Regions from separate parts of the Homo sapiens genome. Here regions 1 and 3 are each linked to region 2. The links come from fine-mapping of genetic effects on gene expression. A gene starts in region 2. Each other region holds a variant in brackets. All regions are shown on one strand. Distances are from middle to middle.

Region 1 (2,500 bases), 30 kb after region 2:
TGACTTTTGTTCTCTTGTTTGTGGCCTCATGTCATAAGATGGTAATCATCACTTCATATGTCACCTCTAAGTTTGAGGTGGGAAGAAGGGGCAGGTGGCCAGGTCAGCCATGGTGCCCTTATCAGTAAATCGGATGCCTTCCCAGAAGCCCTGGGTAGACTTCTTTCATCTCACTGACCAGACAGTGTCACATGACCACCCCTAGCTGCGAGGGAAGCTGGGAAAGAGGGTGTTTTGCTTTTCCAGCCTCTATGGAGGAGGAGGACAAGGGAGGGGGGTTGGAAGTGGGTATGGGGTGAGCCAGAACATACGTCTGTCACAGCCTTGCACCTGGTAGGCAGGGCAGGTTTTTTACCCAATTTGACAGATGAGAAAACAGAGTCTGATGAGTTTTCTCGACCTCAGGGGCAGGTAGAGAAAGAACTTCTCAACCTCATGGATATTTGAGACAACATCTTACTTAAGGGAGGCCAAGGTGGGAGGATTGCTTGAGTCTAGGAGTTCAAGACCAGCCTGGGAAACACAGTGAGACCCTATCCCTAAACAAAATTAAATAAAATAAATATTTTTAAAAAGGATCTTGGCTGGGCACGGTGGCTCACTCCTGTAATCCCAGCACTTTGGAAGGCCGAGGTAGATGGATCACTTGAGGTCAGGAGTTCAAGACTAGTCTGGCCATCATGGTAAAACCCCATCTCTACTAAAAACAGAAAAATTAGCCAGGCGTGGTGGCACGTGCCTGTAGTCTCAGCTACTCGGGAGGCTGAGGCAGGAGAGTCGCTTGAACCCGGGCAGTGGAGGTTGCAATGAGCTGAGATCACACCACTGCTCTCCAGCCTGGGCAATAGAGCAAGACTCCATCTCAAAAGAAAAAATAAAATAAAATAAATAAATAAAATATCTTACTTAGTTGTGGGGGCTGTCCCGTGCTATTCAGCAGCATCTTTGGTCTTTATTTACTTACATGCCAGCCTCATTCCCACTCCAGTGGTGACAATCAAAAATTCTCCAGACATCACCAAGTGTCCCCTGGAGGGCAAAATCACCCCTAGTGGAGAACCACTGCTCGAGGGAACAGCTCAGCCCTGGGCAGCCCAATACCCGAAGCTTACACCAGGTGTTTGGAATCAGATAGATTGATTTCATCCCCTGATTTTGGTGACAAGAAAAGAGATGCAGGGAGGAAAACTGAGTTGCTCAAGGTCGCACCGCAGTGTGTCTCTGGACTCCCATCTCAGTGCTCTTTGCCCTGCCCTACAGTATTTCAGTGGGGAGGAAATTTTCTCATTCCCCGGCGAGCGAGTTTCACTGCTCCCTTTCTCCAGCTTCAATTCAGTGACACTGACGGTTGCCGCCTGGTGGCGTGCGTAGAGCAGGTGTCTCCCCCAAGCTCTTCCGCAGCAGCCCAGCTGTCACCTTCCCTTTCCCCACCAAGCGTTTCCCAATC[C/G]TCTGTGCACTGAAGATGTCCTGGGTGTGGCCTAGCAGCCTCTGCTTCCCTTTTCCATTTTTTTTTTCTTTCTTTCTTTTTTTTTTTTTGAGACAGCTATGTCGCCCAGGCTGCAGTGCAGTGGCGCCCTCTTGGCTCACTGCAGCCTCCGCCTCCCGGGTTCGAGTGGTCATCCCACCTCAGCCTCCCAAGTAGATGGGACTATGGGCATGCGCCACCATGCCTGGCTAATTTTTATATTTTTAGTAGAGACGGGGTTTTGCCATGTTGGCCAGGCTGGTCTCAAACCCCTGACCTCAAGTGATCTGCCCACCTCGGTCTCCCAAAGTACTGGGATGAGAGGCATAAGCCACCACGCCTGGCCCCTTTCCTTTCACTGTTGCTCTCAGTGTTCACTGAATGTGAGTGACTCAAGTATCTGTTGAGTGCCCCAGTGGTGTGTCTAGTGCAGAAAAAAACCCCCAAACCCTGATTTGTGGTGTTTGCTAATTTCTGTGGTATAAACACTCACACTGTAGCCAGTTTCCAACTCCCAAGACCTTCCTGAATATGGAGTTGGGAGGAAATCTGCACAGGCCTGAGCTTATCCCAGCACAGCCCTGGCTGAGCCCTGCCAGGCTCTTTGTGACTGAGTCCCCACGCATCCCTGTGGGGCAGGGAGCATCATCACCCCCATTTTACAGAGGAGGAAACTGAGACTCTGGGAGGTTCCATTTTTCCTGTAGGATTAGATCATTAGGTGAGTGGCATAGCCCAGGTTTGAATCAGGTTTATGCCTGTGTCCCACGCTACTCCTCAACCAGCAGCTACTCCTGATAAGAGGCCAGTGGAGAGTCCTCTTGAGCTGGGCTGCTGGGCTTAGAGTGTGGACTCAGCACCCACCTGCTCCTCCTGCCACAGAAAGAACGTCCAGGGCATGGGAGACAGTGGCGTTCCTTTGTTTAGAAAACACCAACATGTGGCCGGGCGCCATGGCTCACGCCTGTAATCCCAGCACTTTGGGAGGCCGAGGGGGGCGGATCACGAGGTCAGGAGATCGAGACCATCCTGGCT
Region 2 (2,814 bases):
CAGAAGAGCTCTGCATGTCTGTCCAGCGGCTCTGCAGAGTTAAGGCTGTGGGTCATACCAGCCACACCCTCAGCGTGGTCCATGTCACAGAAACATGTGGAAACCAGGTGATTTCCCAGCCTCCTGGTCAGGAGGTGGGGTTTTCCATCCCCAGGGAGTCACTTCCCAGTTTCTCACTCAGCACTCAGCACCTAGAAGCACCATCCTTGCAGGCTCCACTGTGGGGCTGGTGGCCGGGAGCAAGGGTCTCTGTACCTCTTCAGGCAGCCTGCAGTGAGGAAACAGGGAACAGAATAGCCTCCTGCCACCCAGCCCACCCCAACCCTTAGAAATGCCCTATGTGCTGGGGGCTAGGACCCCCGTAATCCAGGGCTGGAGGAATGTGCTCTGGCCCCGCAGGGCTGGCCCTGTATTAGGGCTGGCACTCAAAGTGGGGATGGGGGGACAGATTGCAGCTGGAATGGGTGCTCGGTCATGATGTAAATCCTGGGGAAGCCAGCTCTCCTGGGCCTGGTCTCAGCAGCCCCTCAGGGCCCTGCAGCTTCCCTGGTGACATTCTCTCCCAGCCTCTGTTCATCTGCCCCCTGCCTGGGCAGGAGACTTGAGCAGGGAAGTGCAGAGTCTTCTCCCTGTGAGAAGGCTGGATGCGTGTTTAAGGATAAATGAACACGCGAAGAGTAGTAACAACAGCCAAGATTTATAAATGCCTATTGTTATATATGTAGATACTTACTTAAGTATATATAAAGTACAGACTGCATTATGTATATTACATATCTTTAAATTTTTAGAATAGTCCTATGAGGTCAGTTCAGAGATCCAGACCCAGGTGGTCTGGCTCTAGAGTCTAAACAGGCCGAGTGCAGTGGCTCACACCTATAATCCCAGCACCTTGGGAGGCCAGAGGCGGGAAGATCACTTGAGGGTGGGAAGAACACGTGAGCTCAGGAGTTCGAGACCAGCCTGGACAACATGGCGAAACCCCATCTCTATAAAGAAATCAGCCTAGCATGGTGGCCCGAGCCTGTAGTCCCAGCTACTCGGGAGGCTGAGGTGGGAGGATCGCTTGAGCGCAGGAGTTGGAGGCTGCAGTGAGCTATGGGTGAAAGAGTGAGACCTTGTCTCAAAAAAAATTAAAAAATAAGAATTAAATATATTTAAAATAGAGTCTAAATAAGTGAATGATCTAGAATTCTCTTGGTTCCCCTAAAGCAGCTGTCAGCTTTGGGGGATGTTTTTCCAAATTAGTGCCTCACCCTCACGGGACAGGGAAGCCTGTGGGAGCTGGGAGGGCAGGTGGAGGCCGGGCAGGTGGAGGCCGGGCAGGTGGAGATGGTGATTCGAAGAGGAGGGGACGATAGGAGGAGGTTGAGGGGTCACCCGAGTGCTGGGAGTGACGCTGGAGGTATCGGCCCAGCGATGCTGGAGTGGTCGGGTCGGAGGCCCAGCAGCGTCTGGGGAGGGGCGTGGGGGAGGCGTGTCCAAGGCCGGCTGGCCCCGCCCCGCCCCGCCGCCTGGCCTCTGGCCCGCTGGGGCGCGGGCTTTCGCTTTCAGTCGAGGGCTAGCGAGCGCAGCGGAGCCTGGAGAGAAGGCGCTGGGCTGCGAGGGCGCGAGGGCGCGAGGGCAGGGGGCAACCGGACCCCGCCCGCACCCATGGCGCCCGTCGCCGTCTGGGCCGCGCTGGCCGTCGGACTGGAGCTCTGGGCTGCGGCGCACGCCTTGCCCGCCCAGGTGGGTGACTCGCGCGGCCCACGGGGGACAGCCGCCCCGCATGTCCACCCGGCTGGTGCGCAGCCTTCGGGTGCCCGGGCCGCGCTCTCCCGGGGCGCTGTCACGGGCTGGGAGGCTGGGAGTCCCAGTCGCCGCCCCCCATCCGCATCAGACACGCGCGCCTCTGGGGACCCGCTGGGGACTCCGGGCCCGGCACACGTGCGCTCGGGGCACAACTCTGGCCCCCGAAGCCCCTCTTACCCGCGTCGTGACAGGGGCGCACCCTGGTTCCTCCGCGAGCGCAGGCCGGGGCATTTGGGGCTGAGCAGCGGGTCCTGGGCAGACCCCCGCTAGACCCGGGACCCCTCTTCCCTCACCCCGGCGACTGCCGCGACAGCCCTTCCCTCCCACGCGGTGGAGAAGGGGCTGTGCCGGGGCGCTGCCCCACTGCCCACGCCGGGCACCCTCTTCAAAAGACTTCCTTTTCCTCTGGGCGACGGTTTTCCGATTTCTTAGAAATACCAGGGTCCTGTGTCTGAAGAGCAGGACCAGGTGTGTGTCAGGTCCACTGAGGGCACAGCTGGAGGGCGAGCTGCCTGTCTGCTTCCTCCGATGCGTCCGGGGGCTACTGCAGAGTCTGTTTTCTGCGGCCTCTGGGGACAGGGCAAGCGAGGGAGGTCTGGGCTGGTAATCGAGCAAGGCAAATGAAGTCTCCGGGGGCCGCAGGAAAATGGAGACAGCAGAAACCCTAGGGCTCCTATTCAATATGAACGTCACTCCCACAGTAGCAACGGGCGTACAAGGGACTGTGCACCCTTTGCCTGTTTTTGACTGTCTCCTGGTCTGGTAACATAGGATAACCCCATTTTTGTTTTACTGTCTCCATGGTTTGGTAAGATAAGATAAACCATTTTTTAGAGAAGGAAAACTGAGGCTCAGAGAACTTGTATTTCATGGAAGGGTCTGGGGGGAACTCTTCCTCCAAAGGGGGCCTCTCCTGCCTTCGGCCCCTGTGCCCTGAGGCTGCGGGGAAGGTGGGCGTTCATCCTTCCTCAGAGCCGCCCCTGATGGACACATGGCCCATCTGCCCCCATCTGACATCTT
Region 3 (2,841 bases), 34 kb before region 2:
TCTCGCTCTGTTGCCCAGGTTGGAGTGCAATGGCGCAATCTCAGCTCACTGCAACCTCTGCTTCCCGGGTTCCAGCAATTCTCCTGCCTCAGCCTCCCGAGTAGCTGGGATTATAGGCGCGCGCCACCATGCCCAGCTAATTTTTGTATTTTTAGTAGAGATGGGGTTTCACCAGGTTGGCCAGGCTGGTCTGGAACTCCTGGCATCGTGATTTGCCCACCTCAGCCTCCCAAAATACTGGGATTACAGGCATGAGCCACCACGCCCAGTCTCATTTTTAAAAATAGTTTTAGATGTACAGAAAATTGGAGAAGACAGCACAGGAGTTCCCACATGCCCCACACCCAGTTTCCTCTGTGATTAGCATCTTAAGCCAGCATCGTTCATTTGTCAAAATATGTGAACCATTATTGACACAGGATTACAAACGAAAGCCCACACTGTGTTCAGGGTTCCCTTGCATTGCCTAAGGTTCCAGGATCCCATCCAGGAGCCACGTCACATTCAGTCATCATGTCGCCTTAGGCTACTCTGGCCTGTGGCCGTTTCTCAGATCTTGTTTCTCAAGACCAGTTTCCCTGATGGCCTTGGCAGTTTTTGAGTATTGATCAGGTGTTTTGCGGGACGCCTGTCTCCTGGGATCTGTCTGATGTCTTCCCCATGATTAGACTGGAGTTATGCATTGGGGGAAGAAGACCACAGAGGTGAAACGTCATGCTCATCACATCAAATCTTGGCTGGGCGCAGTAGCTCATGCCTGTAATCCCAGCACTTTGGGAGGCCAAGCCTGGCAGATCACCTGAGGTCAGGAGTTTGAGACCAGCCTGGCCAACATGGTGAAACCCTGTCTCTACCGAAAATACAAAAATTAGCCGGGTGTCATGACACGCACCTGTAGTCCCAGCTACTTGGGAGGCTGAGGCAGGAGGATCGCTTAAACCCCAGAGGCAGAGGTTGCATTGAGCTGAGAACGTGCCACTACACTCCAGCCTCGGTGACAGAGCGAGACTCCATCTCAAAAAAAAAAAAAAAAAAAAAAAAATCAACCTGATTTACCACTGGGCACCTTCACTTTTGATATCTCTTTTAATCTTCTCAACAAGCCCCAAAGTTGATGTGATTCATCCCATTTTCCAGCTGGGAGGACAGAGGCTCGGAGAAGGGAAGTAATATTGTGCTGAGTTTCACCGCCAAGGAGGCCCCTGCTCCAGGGTGGCTAAGCGGCCTCATTGTTTTTGACATTTGGCTGGTTTTCAATTTGAGGGTTATTATAAACCCGCTGCTGTGCTCGGCCTTTTTGTTTTCTTTCGGGTTATTTCCTGAGGGTGTGTTCCCTCAAGAGGGATGACTGGGTAAAGAGTGTGAGGTTTTTGTTGCCAGATGGCTCTTTAGAAAAATGGAACCAGCCTGCAGGGTATGGGCAGCTCTGCGATCCCGTTCACCCACTTCCCCTTCAAGGCCGAGTTGTGTCATTTTTATTTATTTTGTTTTGTTACTTTGTCACACTTTTTTTTTTTTATTCTGTTGGCCACCCCCAGTGACTTGGTACCAAAGAACAGTTGGCTGCTTGTAAAACTCAAAATCACTCTGGAGGGACCATGATTTAGTTTCACTGACGTCATTGAAAAGAATGTGCCTCGGCCGGGTGC[C/G]GTGGCTCACGCCTGTAATCCCAGCACTTTGGGAGGCCGAGGCGGGTGGATCACGAGGTCAAGAGATCGAGACCAGCCTGGCCAACATGGTGAAACCCCGTCTCTACTAAAAATACAAAAATTAGCTGAGCATGGTGGTGCGTGCCTGTAATCCCAGCTACTCGGGAGGCTGAGGCAGGAGAATCGCTTGAACCCAGGAGGCGGAGGTTGCAGTGAGCCGAGATCGCGCTGCTGCACTTCACCCTGGCGACAGAGTTAGACTCCATCTCAAAAAAAAAAAAAAAAAAAAAAAATTACCCCTGGCCGGGCAAGGTGGCTCATGCCTGTAATCCCAGCACTTCGAGAGGCCGAGGCGGGCAGATCACCTGAGGTCAGGAGTTGGAGACCAACCTGGCCAACATGGTGAAACCTTGTTTCTACTAAAAATACAAAAATTAGCCGGGCGTGGTGGCACATGTCGGTAATCCCAGCTACTTGTGAGAATTGCTTAAACCTGTGAGGCAGAGGTTGCAGTGAGCCAAGATCGTGCCACTGCACTCCAGCCTGGGTGACAGAGTGAGACTCTGTCTCAAAAAAAGAAAAAATTACCCCTAAGAGTGTTTCCCAAACTCACCTAGTGTCCACACAGCGTGTTCAAATGGTCAGTCTTGCGTATACTTTATCCTACTTGTTGACTGAGCACTGGTGAGCATATCTGTGAGGACTCAGGGCTGGTGGCTCTCCAGAGCTGCTGAAGTCAGAGATGTGTGCAGGAGGCGGCGTGGCTGACATACGGGCATCTTGGTGGCAGATTTGTCTAGCCAGGGATGTGTGCCTGACAACAGCATATTCCAGATCTCCGTAGGTAGCGTTCTCAGGAGTGGTTAAAAGCTGGGCATCCCTGGAGGATGGTCTGCTCTGGGAACTGACTTGCTCCAGGATGAGTTAGATGCCCGGATGCCCTCTCACCTTTCTCAGATGGCCAGTGAGCCAAGGTTAAATGTTAAATGTCAATATGTGCTTGGGCGTGACCTGGCCCCTGTTTAATATGGGAGAACAATGGGAGTGGAGGGTAGAGGTTTGAGATGAGAAGATAGAGGTTGTGCGTTGAGAATCATTGTATCAGCACCTCCTGAGCCTACAAAAGGATGGGATTGAAGGAAATGAGATGGCCCGAGAGCAGTTGTCCTCCTCGAAGGCTGCCACCTGGGTG

Alleles and levels. Alleles are on the strand shown, and positions count from the first base shown. SD is a standard deviation of normalised expression in the study named. Not every link is listed here.
With allele G in place of C in region 3, the expression in cerebellum of the gene that starts at base 1,553 in region 2 is lower (small effect, 0.30 SD a copy in GTEx).

Evidence for each region. PIP is the estimated chance that this variant, and not a neighbour inherited with it, causes the effect. A credible set is the group of variants that fine-mapping cannot tell apart.
Region 1: its variant is the best candidate, but not a certain one, in a credible set for the expression of TNFRSF1B in whole blood (TOPMed, PIP 0.84).
Region 3: its variant is the best candidate, but not a certain one, in a credible set for the expression of TNFRSF1B in cerebellum (GTEx, PIP 0.72).

The regions. Positions count from the first base shown.
Region 1 is chr1:12,195,437-12,197,936 of GRCh38, forward strand. The region is part of intron 8 of TNFRSF1B (TNF receptor superfamily member 1B); the gene reads left to right. Among named protein-coding and RNA genes, the nearest start is that of MIR4632, 5.0 kb to the left of the region's middle. The variant C/G (reference allele first, on the strand shown) is at 1,448.
Region 2 is chr1:12,165,439-12,168,252 of GRCh38, forward strand. It overlaps TNFRSF1B (TNF receptor superfamily member 1B), which reads left to right and starts at 1,553. Exons shown (of 10, transcript NM_001066.3): 1 at 1,553-1,731. The coding sequence starts at 1,654. MIR7846 (microRNA 7846) reads left to right here and starts at 1,505; the gene lies at 1,505-1,600. RefSeq lists silencers at 1,389-1,698, 1,709-1,938 and an enhancer at 1,979-2,620.
Region 3 is chr1:12,131,821-12,134,661 of GRCh38, forward strand. The region is part of intron 12 of TNFRSF8 (TNF receptor superfamily member 8); the gene reads left to right. Among named protein-coding and RNA genes, the nearest start is that of MIR7846, 34 kb to the right of the region's middle. The variant C/G (reference allele first, on the strand shown) is at 1,650.